Linked DNA regions of Homo sapiens. The protein of the gene in region 1 purifies or fractionates together with the protein of each later gene. This does not show direct contact. Each region holds a gene or a part of one and is shown in the gene's direction. Other genes may lie near its edges.

Region 1 (3,928 bases):
CCACACCAGGCCCATCATCAGTTTTTATATAAAGAAAAAAAAACCTTAAAATTGTTAGGCAAATACTATGACAAATTGTAATATATATTCTTACATTTCAGATTTTTATTTTTTAAACTGTATAAGAATTGATTAATAAATAAAATTTAGTATTAATCTGTCTTTTAAAACCATATATAAAGTTTATCAAATAGCTTATAACTTCTTGCAACTGAATTTTTGTATTCAATGTTATGGCTTTGATACTAGTCCAAGTTGAAATATAGATATCTACTTTATTCGATTTAAATTCTGTTTAGTATTTTATTATATTTTGTTAATCCATTTGTCCCAATTCATATACTTATCTCTCTTTCTGTGAATATTCAGGTTAGTTTTTTCTTCCTAATTTTGCATTCTGATTGGCTTTTATTCCCTGAATTATAAATGACTATTCTATGATGATTCTGGTAAATACTCAATTTCACCACACAATCTTTGACTTCATACTAACAAACAGTTGACTTCAAATGGACAATTTCAATGAAGCCTGACTTCATATTTAGCTCCTTTAAGCTTCCTTAGGCATCAGCTCTCTACAATTCTCACATTGAGAATATGTGTATTTTGTTAGCTCAAACCTTGTTAGACATGTTAAATGTTTAGAAATATAAATTTAACCTACCCCTTGAGGTAGGTCTTGAGAGGTTTGTGAGCCTAAAAAGACATGGAGGAACCACTTATTGCCACAAGCACATTGTTCTAAATTATTTGGAATCAGTTAATTCTTCCCCATCTCCTACCCATGCCTGACACCAAAGAGGAGCCTCTAAATTTACAGGGAATACAAGGAAGTCTACTGTTCTCTGCTCCTCTCTGGGTTATTAGGGCACATGGGAGCCCTCAGTTGTTTTCTGCTGAGCAAGAGCAAAGTCCACCTTGGACTTAGACAGCTTGCCAAATTTTTTGCCAGAAGGGGACCTGAGTTGTGACCACTCCCAGTGTGTGCCGGGAAAAGGCTCGTACTGGTGCCAGAATCTCTTACTGTCAATGCTCCCAAAACTCACCGCTTGCCCCCACCCCTTTTGCTTAAATGACGTGGTTCTTATCTCAGATCCTGATATAAAGCTCCTACAGCTACCTGGCCTGAGAAGCCAACTCAGACTCAGCCAACAGGTAAGTGGGCATTACAGGAGAAGGGCGTCTCTAACATGCACTGTAGATCTAAAATCTTCGGGAAGATACAGCATGAGTTTCTGTCCAAGAGGTTTTAGCTGTAATGAAGCCTCAGTGGGATCCAAAGTTGTTTTTCAGTTACTGAGTCTGTATAATCCCCACTCTCAAGAGAAACATTTGAAGGTGTGGGTGTCTCAGAGGACCTTCCTGGTCTCAGAAATTCTGAGAGGAGGTTTTAAGGAAGGTAATAGGTGCTTTGCTCTCCATCTCTCAGAACCCCCTTCTCTGTGTTCTCCTATAGAGATTGTTGATTTGCCTCTTAAGCAAGAGATTCATTGCAGCTCAGCATGGCTCAGACCAGCTCATACTTCATGCTGATCTCCTGCCTGATGTTTCTGTCTCAGAGCCAAGGTAAGATCTCTTTTCCACCAACCAACTCTTTCTAGCCCTGAAGACTTCACTCTATCCCCAAGCATACGGGTCTACTTGAAAAAAAAAAAAAAAGCAGAGTCACTGTTAAGGGTTGTTTTGTGGTGTTTAGTGATCTTTATTGCTGATCTCTTCACATTTATATACATCCACACCTCATTAAGGAGTTGGAGCTAGAATTTAAAATGACCCCTTATAAGCAACTGCTGCAGTTGGCATGAGTTTATCTGATTAAATTTATACGTGATGGTGGATTTGGGGATGTCTGTGTGTAGACAGTCACTAATGGGGTGGAGAACTGAAGAGAGCCTTGTGTTCAGGGAAACCAAGTCAGGCTTGAGAAAGTAGAAGGCTGAGTCCTTCAAGGTAGAAGAGCCTGAGCTCCAGACATAAAAGGGAAACTGGAGACTTGTTTCTTTGGCCTATTCATTCTGTTTTTTTTCCCCTGATCAAAGAAACCAAAGACAGAAGATGTAGGATGCAGGAGCAATAGTGAGCAGTCATCCCATAATAGACTGGATTCTTCTGTTTCTATAAAGGAACCTCAGAAGCTCTTACCTCACCTTCAAGCCTTTTCCTTACCCTGAGAGCCTCCTTTAATTGTCTCTTCTTTTTCAGGCCAAGAGGCCCAGACAGAGTTGCCCCAGGCCCGGATCAGCTGCCCAGAAGGCACCAATGCCTATCGCTCCTACTGCTACTACTTTAATGAAGACCGTGAGACCTGGGTTGATGCAGATGTGAGTGAGGAGAGCAGTGTGGGAAGGGAGACTCATGAAGGGAGGGGAAGCTGCCACTCTCCAGTGTGTTCAGTGGCTGCAATGAGATGAGACTGAACCCCTTGCTATACTATCATCAGCCCCAAACTTTCCAATCTACTTTATCCCATTATTCAGCACATTCCCAGCACAAAGAACCTGGTGGTCAGTGACAGCATCATCACGGACATTACTCTGCTGTCCTTTTTCTGACCCGTCCTCTTGGAGGACTCAGTATATCCGTCACAACTTCCTCCTCCACTGAGTGCTCCATTTTCTTCTGCAACAGCTCTATTGCCAGAACATGAATTCGGGCAACCTGGTGTCTGTGCTCACCCAGGCCGAGGGTGCCTTTGTGGCCTCACTGATTAAGGAGAGTGGCACTGATGACTTCAATGTCTGGATTGGCCTCCATGACCCCAAAAAGGTAGGCTGCAGCCTTCTTTATCTCCTAATGATCAGGTTTGAGAAGTAAGAAGGAGGTTCAAGTTCTGGTCTCTTAAGTACCAGCTTTTATCGCTTTCCAGAAATCAGGCTGTTTACAGATCCTCTAATGTCCTGTGTAGCAAGGTGCACTGTAGATGATTGGAGATATAAGTGGAAGGCTGAATTTCCTAGGTGTTCTTGTCATTCATGAATAAACTTATTCTGTTTTCAGTCAACAAAGCATCTTTATGCACCAACTTCTTACCTATTTTGTTACTGTCAGAGTCACAAGAGAGACTAGATTGCCGACTATATAGGAAAGGAGACTTGTGGTAAAAATCTGCTGCTGTACTGCTGGCATTTGGGAACCTGGTAGTATACTAAATAATATAATATATCAACAACTAATGGTCAGCCAATGCTATGCTGGATATGAGGGTCCTGGGCCACAAAGACAAAAAATCAGGAACCACTTTTTAAGTGAGATACTTTGGGTCTCTGTCAAATTCATAACACTTATTTCTTGGTGGAATACAGTTAATGAGTTGGACAGTTCAGGAAAGAAGTTTAGAGCAATAGCAAAGGAAAGGAAACAATATTTAGCAAGGTTTATTCTTCCTTTGTGTCTTAGCATGTTTCTGAGTGTGCACACAGGCCCAGTGATTCCATGTATTTTTGAGTGACCACTGCCTCTGTTCTGGCCCTTCCCCATCTAGAACCGCCGCTGGCACTGGAGCAGTGGGTCCCTGGTCTCCTACAAGTCCTGGGGCATTGGAGCCCCAAGCAGTGTTAATCCTGGCTACTGTGTGAGCCTGACCTCAAGCACAGGTGAGAGGCAGAGAATCCATCCACCTGTTTCTGTTCTCTCCTGCTTAGCTCCAGGGATGGAACTGGGACTGGGATAGAGGAAAGGTGAACTCCTCATTAAGGAAATGGATGTTTGGTTTTTGTCCTGAGTCCTAAAGCCAGGAGGGTCATACTCTTTCGGGTCTCCCAGTTGTAACTCTTCTCATTGACTTATAGGATTCCAGAAATGGAAGGATGTGCCTTGTGAAGACAAGTTCTCCTTTGTCTGCAAGTTCAAAAACTAGAGGCAACTGGAAAATACATGTCTAGAACTGATCCAGCAATTACAACGGAGTCAAAAATTAAACCGGACCATC
Region 2 (3,500 bases), on another chromosome or scaffold:
CAAATTATATACTAATTTATTTATTAAAAATAAAATTTAATATTGTGAAATTCTACTACCTCCACAAAATGGCAGGGAAATAAGTAGAATGTATGGAAAAATTAGTTGATAATTGTCTTTTGGCATACTTTTAGTATATCAAATGATTCACGCCATTAAATCTTTCTCAGTAAGCTGTAATATGGTTATTAGAACTGAATGAAAAGCATGTCAGGTGTCTTGGAACAAAAGTACACCTGTGCACAATTGTGTAGATATACAAATGTATATATTAAAAGTTTTATATTACACAAATCTCAACAACTTTTAATTTGATATGTGTTGATTACTTAATCTGGATATGAGGTCTAGTACAATTTGAAGGTATTTAAAGTAGATCTTTTATCCTTGTAGACCGAATTACTTTAGAAATAGAAAATAGCAAATTCTGAAATGTTGTCATTACATACTTTTTCCCCTTAGTATTGAATTTGACCGGGATTGTGACTATTTTGCGATTGCTGGAGTTACAAAGAAGATTAAAGTCTATGAATATGACACTGTCATCCAGGATGCAGTGGATATTCATTACCCTGAGAATGAAATGACCTGCAATTCGAAAATCAGGTATTTACATTATTTTCTTGACATGATGCAGTATAGATGTAACAATTTGCATATGTAATTATCATGAGATTATTTTACCTTTGCATGACACTTTTTACTCATGGTGAACACTATTATTGTACTATGTATACAGAGTATATATTATTACTTATATCATCTTTCTTACAGATATTGGTTGCTTTTTTCTTGTGAGGTTAGCCTTTTTTTTTTTTCTGGTTGCCAAATTAAAGTTCTTCTTTCACTTAATCAAATAAAGGTCTTTGTTGGACATGGTTGTTGGAGACTCTATGGAGTACTGAATGAGGATTAATGTAGCTTATGAATAGTATTTGAACATCAGGAATTTTTCCCCTAGCCTGCACATATCTCAACATATTAGAATTGTTTCTAGTTTTAAGAATTTTTTTTACAAGAATATTCTGCTTTTCACTGAAGGAATGGTGTTTATGTTTTCTGTATTAGAGATTATACTTTATAAGCAGTGCTTTTCAAACCTAAAATACTCTTAAACACTAACAGTATGTTAAGACTCTACTCCTGATCTGCTCCCCAAAAAATCTCAGAAGAATTCTAGAATCTGCTTTTTTTTTTTTTTTTTTCCTTCTAAACAAGCTTCCCAAGCTGTTCTCATGAGCACTGGCTTTAAAAGAGAATTATATGAGGAAATCATCTAATAATAACTTTGTATAGAACTTTGAACATTTTCAAAATAGCCATCCTTGAACCTTTTTTATCTTTAATGAATGGCATACATAGTATGTTTGTTACAGTCTTTGTATAATTTATTTGTTATAACTTTCTTTTTTCTAGTTCATTTATAAAAATACTATATCGATAATTGGTGAGCTTCCCCATTCATTTGTGGCACTCATCATTGAGAATCTGTTATAGTTTATGTCCTAAGTGAAGAGGATATAACATGAATTAGATACAAGTTTATTGAATTCTTATATATCAGGCATTATCCTAAGTGCTTGGTCTTTAGCAGACCTATGAAATAGTTACCATTATTGCTCCATTTTATACAAAGAAAGCTGAGCACAGGAAGGTAAATAACCTGCCTAAGATTATACACCTGCTATATAGAGGAGCCAGGATTCAGACTGAAGTAGTTTGGTTCTAGAGTCTGTGCCCTTAAACATTTCCTGCTCCTTATTTATAAAATGGAGGTCACAATAGTAATACTTATTTAATAGGATTGTACTTTTAAAAAATCCCCATAATGCACTCAGAACAACACTTGGCCCATGGCAAGTACTCATAATATATTACATAATGAAAACGTGGATTAGAAAGTTTAAATGTGCTGTCTACCTGTTCTGTATTTGTATGTGTAAAAATGTGCAATACTTCCTGATATATTGGAATAAATGGTGAAAGCGCTCAAGGCTGAAAGCTGTGGGCCTGGGGCTGAAAGGATCAATACCTAAGGATGCCTAAAATAGATTCGGAGCACATCTACTGTGAAAGTGTACTAAATTAGCCAGAGCCACAGCTAATAAGTAACAGATCTGGAATTTGAACTCAAGTCTACCTAAATTCAAAATGTGTCTCTTAATTGTTCCAGATAATTTCTACCAGAAATTCTAATTAAGTATATTTAAAAATGCAAATAAACTCTTCCAGTCTCTGGAATTTAGCATCAATGCAACTAGTAGAAAGCAAAAGACCTTGTGTTCATGTCTTAGAAGTTACCTACATTAACTGCCTTCTAAGTAACTTCTTCCATAATATGCATTCCCTTTACTATATGCGTGATGCAGATATGTATCTCAGCAGAAGTTTTTAGATGTTGTAGACTTCTGGAGTACTTGAGAATAGCCAAAACCATAAATGATAAAAGTTTGATTCTAACTTTTAGATGCTTTTAATTGGAATTTTAGTCATAAGTTATAATTAGTCAAGTCAAGACTTTTGGGATGTAAATACAGAAACCCAATTCACTGTAGTTTATTTGGCTTATATGATTTGGCACAACTGGATCCAGGGGGTTAAACAGTCTCATCAGGTCTGTCATTCTGCCATGGTATGCCTTGAGCCCTCTGGATAGTATCACCTTCACTGATAGACATCGTTTCCTCATGTATCAAAGATGGCCAGTGATAGCTCTAGGCTCACATCCATCTTAACAGCTAGTGATCACAGTAAAAGGTGGTTAGGGTCATTACTTGTTAATTTTTATTTTTAAAATTTCAAAATTATTGGTATGTCTTTTCCCAGGTATGTTGTGGGCAGAATAATGATTGTGAACTGATAGAGACCATTTTAAAATAGTGCAAATCTTTCTGAACACATTAAAATTATTTTTATCCCATTGTTATTTATTTTTATGTAAAGTAACTTTTAACTGTATTTCTTTCAGCTGTATCAGTTGGAGTAGTTACCATAAGAACCTGTTAGCTAGCAGTGATTATGAAGGCACTGTTATTTTATGGGATGGATTCACAGGACAGAGGTCAAAGGTCTATCAGGTAAATAAGGGTACTAGTTACATGTTATATGAATCATACATTTGGTTTGTTAAAACTTTTAGAACTTCATGTGCCTTATAATTACAGATTTGAAGTCACTATTTAGTATTTTTTATACCTGTGTAACACCTATGCAATACCAAATGCTTTTTTTTCCTGTCTCCCACTTTTGGTACCATATGCTTTTCCAAAGCATTTCTTCAGACTTCGGTCTTTATGGAATGTATCAGGTAAATTTCTAAAAGCAATAATTTTGGTAAATGTATAAAAAGTTTTGGAAGTACTTTATATCAACATCTTATTTGCTTTTCATTTGTTTTCTAGCCTGTTGTCTTTCCCTCTCCCCGTAACAATAAATTGATATCAGGTTTTTTTTTTTCTTGCTTTATTCATTTTGAGATCTGTATTCTATCTGAGGCTACT
Region 3 (3,500 bases), on another chromosome or scaffold:
TGGGGAAGTTAGGAATGAGTTACATGAACACTGGGGGCCAGGGGAGCTTCCAGATAGAGGGAACAGTAAGTGAAGACACCCCTGTTTCAAATAGGAGGCAGGCCGCATGGCTGGTACAGAGTGAGCATGGGAGGGTAAGGGGATAACAGCAGAGAGTTAGAAGGGCAGGGCCTGGAGAGGCCATCATAAGACCTGAACTTCTCTGCCAAGTGCACCAAGAAACCCAGGTGGAGGGGCCAGGAAGGCATCTGGGCATGGGCGTCTCAAGATTAGGTCTGAGCTAAAGATGGAAATTTGGGGGTCAGCACAAGTGTAGAAAAAAAGGCTAAGAGTTTGTAAGATGGCGCCTTAGGGCATCAAGTGTTCAAGTAAAGGAGACCGTGTGGCTCAGTGAGGTGAGAGGAGAACCCCATGGTCTCAGAAGCTGAGTGAAGACAGCATTTCAGGCTGTCCCAGGAGTGGGAAGCTGTTCAAGAGGAGCTGATGGCTCAGTGCACATCATATTTGTACATTTCTTCCAGGAAAGAGAAATTGAAGATGCAGATGCAGGAGGGAAAGAGAATTGCAGGAGGAGGGTCCCGAGTACTGAGGGGGTCTCTCGCCCGCACTCCGTGCCTATTGACAGGAGAGCAAGTAGCATATGGGTGCAGATGCCTGTGTGCGTGGGTTCGGTGGGCGGGGGGGGGGGGGGACTTTGGCAAAGACTTCTTCCTGTTTTCTCTTCTTAGTGATGAAATAGGAAGCCCCTGAGATGGCGGGGCTGGAGGTGAGGGTGCGGGTGGGCAGACAAGAGGAGATAAAGCAGTTCAGTCGTCGAAAGGTGTGGTGGAGTGACTCCCTGCACTGTATTAGAGCAGTGATTCTCAAGGAGTGGGCCAGGGTTTGGGGTCCCCAAGATTGTTTCAGGTGTTGTGTGAGGTTAGAGCTATCTTCATGATGTATTAAGAAGGTTTTTCATCTTTTCCACTGTCATTCCCTCACAAGTAGACAGTGGAGCTTCCCAAGGTGTGATCTTTCAGCAGCAAGCATAACAAATGCTTGAGAATCCCGTTGTCTTTTAAGCAGGACGTTGCAGAATTGTTAAAACAATGCCATTGTTGTCACTGGATTTTGTTTTGTTTTGTTTTCGGAAGTATAGTGATTTTTTTGGTAAAGGTATTTGTGTTAACGTGTAATTGATTTATTATTTTTGAGTGAATATTTAAAATTTTTAAATCTCAGTAGATATTACGCGTATAAACAAAAGTTCTTTGGAGTCTTCAGTAACTTTTTAGCGTAAAGGAGTTCTGAAACCAAACAGTTTAAGAACTGCTGGACTACAGAAATATGATATGACTAGCATTGTTATGGGTCTCAAAGGAGAATTTGACTAGAAATCAGAAGAGAACAGTTGAAAAGTAGCTGGTTTTGAACCTGACAAAATAGTGGCTCCATTAATTGACTAGGGAAGTGAGGGGATGGAGATGGGTTTTCAGAATGCAGATTTGGGAATGGTGTGCTGGGATGTGCTGGTGAGCTGCCCACAGCATCGGAGCCAGGTTGGGAGGCATCCACTAAGAACACGTGATTGAACACATAGGAATGGGGATGGTGGGGACAGGGAGGTGGGAGTGTAGAATAGGAGTGGGGAGCAAAAACCGAGTGGTGGGAGTGACCACATTTAGAGGGTGGAATAAAGGAGCAATTGTCAGGGAAGACCCAGACACAGGCGGGGAGGATCCATGGGGTTGGATGCTGCAGCGGGCGAGTTTGACCTTCTGTCTCTGCGAGATACATCCCTAGTTGGTCTCCAGTTCCATTAGCAATTTATTGCCACTTAGAAAACACAAGATGTAGATTTATTAACTTGAATTTTAAAGAAGCAAGTAGCAGTTAAGTGAAAAAATATGTAAACACCTTAATAGTGGCTGTGACAGCTTATTATGGCTATTAGGTAGATTAAATCATCTGCCTCAGCCCTAAAGTTGGCCTTAAAGTTGTTGATGAAACATGTTTTGTTTTCCTTGTGGCATATTACTGTTAGCTTTAGCAGGCTTATTTCAACTGGTTATTGTAAACGCTGCTTACTAGAGACATTTCTCTTGTTTCTTTCAGTAACTTGGATCCACTTACAGAAACTGTATCCTTTTTTACAAAAAAAAAAAAGTTGAATGAAGATTTACTGAGAATAAAGAAAACAGAAATGAAAGGAAAACAGAGGAGTACTGAAAAGTTTAAAAACTTGTAGGTCAGGAAACATCATAAGCAACACTGAAAGCAATTTTAAAAAGTGAAACTGAGAACAAGAGTTGTCTTAGATCTGCTGACAAACTGTTAATATCATGACTTGGTAGAAATCTGTAACATCATAGCTCCCCTGCCAACCTTGCCCCTCAGGAGTCAGCATGGCTGTATTCACCAGAAAGCACAGTGACTTCAGCAAGGTGGCTGCATAGTCTCCAGTGTGAACAAAGTCTGGAGATAAGCAGTCCCAGGCAGGTGATGCTTCCATGAAGACACCAACAGCCAGGCTCTTTGCAGTTTAAGCACTCTACCCCTCCCAGGGTGGCCGTAACCTTGTTCCAGATGTTGCCACAGCAAACAGCATCACAGCCATGTTTCCGGCAGCAGAAACAGCAGAGGGGGAGGTGAGGGTGTTCTTCCCTTTTAAGAGTACCTTTGGGCCTGTACTCCCAGCACTTTGGGGGGCCAAGGCAGGCAGATCACGAGGTCAGGCGTTCAAGACCAGCCTGGCCAACATGGTGAAACCCCGTCCGTCTCTAGTAAAAATACAAGAACTAGCCAGCCGTGGTGGCTCACTCCGTAATCCCAGCTACTTAGGAGGCTGAGGCAGGAGAATCGCTTGAACCAGGACCCGGGAGGCAGAGGTTGCAGTGAGCCGAGGTTGCAGTGAGCCGAGATCGCGCCACTGCACTCCAGCCTGGGCTACATGTAGAGCGAGACTCCGTCTCAAAAAAAAAAAAAAAAGGAGAGTACCTTTGGGAAATGCCACACAGGCCCGCTCTGTCTCATTGACCAGCACCTGTTTCATGCTTCACCTGTCTACTGAATCCTATCTAGAGTCCAGAAATGTGCCCTGCTTTATAAATTGGGACTTGTTACTAAAGTGAAGGCTTTGAGGTAACAATGAACAGTGTCTATTATTGTCCTAATGGAAAAATGGGGCAAAGATGTGAAGATAGGATACTGTGGTTATGCTGCTGTAACAGATAACCCCACATCTCTAGTGGCTTACAACACAAAGTTCGGATTCTGTGTTATGCTCTGTATCTACTGTAGGTGGGTAGGAGGGTTCTGCTAACCGGTAATTTATCAAAAGAGGGCATATAGGAGCTTAATGAACGTGTTAAGAGTTCAGTCTCATCAGTCAAAAGACATGTAAACTAAAACCAAAATGAGATGCCATATTTTATGTATCAGCCAAGATTTTAAAAAATGATAAACCTCAGTGCTGATGATGGTGAGGTGAGAGGAACATTCTCATAAATTGCTAGTGACAA

Evidence for each region. The genes of interacting proteins can lie anywhere in the genome.
Region 2: the proteins of REG1A (region 1) and COP1 purify together in Homo sapiens (affinity purification with western blotting, with the first as the bait; one study listed by BioGRID). This does not show direct contact.
Region 3: the proteins of REG1A (region 1) and NAA20 purify together in Homo sapiens (affinity purification with mass spectrometry; one large-scale study listed by BioGRID and IntAct). This does not show direct contact.

What each region holds. Positions count from the first base shown.
Region 1 is NC_000002.12:79,119,360-79,123,287, forward strand, and holds the start of REG1A (lithostathine-1-alpha precursor), read left to right. Parts: upstream 1-1,128; 5' UTR 1,129-1,155; intron 1,156-1,456; 5' UTR 1,457-1,502; coding exon 1,503-1,566; intron 1,567-2,202; coding exon 2,203-2,321; intron 2,322-2,628; coding exon 2,629-2,766; intron 2,767-3,481; coding exon 3,482-3,593; intron 3,594-3,788; coding exon 3,789-3,856; 3' UTR 3,857-3,928. UniProt on the Homo sapiens protein: Might act as an inhibitor of spontaneous calcium carbonate precipitation. May be associated with neuronal sprouting in brain, and with brain and pancreas regeneration.
Region 2 is NC_000001.11:176,043,287-176,046,786, reverse strand, and holds part of COP1 (E3 ubiquitin-protein ligase COP1), read left to right. Parts: intron 1-462; coding exon 463-606; intron 607-2,968; coding exon 2,969-3,077; intron 3,078-3,500. UniProt on the Homo sapiens protein: E3 ubiquitin-protein ligase that mediates ubiquitination and subsequent proteasomal degradation of target proteins.
Region 3 is NC_000020.11:20,020,362-20,023,861, forward strand, and holds part of NAA20 (N-alpha-acetyltransferase 20), read left to right. Parts: intron 1-2,094; coding exon 2,095-2,119; intron 2,120-3,500. UniProt on the Homo sapiens protein: Catalytic subunit of the NatB complex which catalyzes acetylation of the N-terminal methionine residues of peptides beginning with Met-Asp, Met-Glu, Met-Asn and Met-Gln. Proteins with cell cycle functions are overrepresented in the pool of NatB substrates.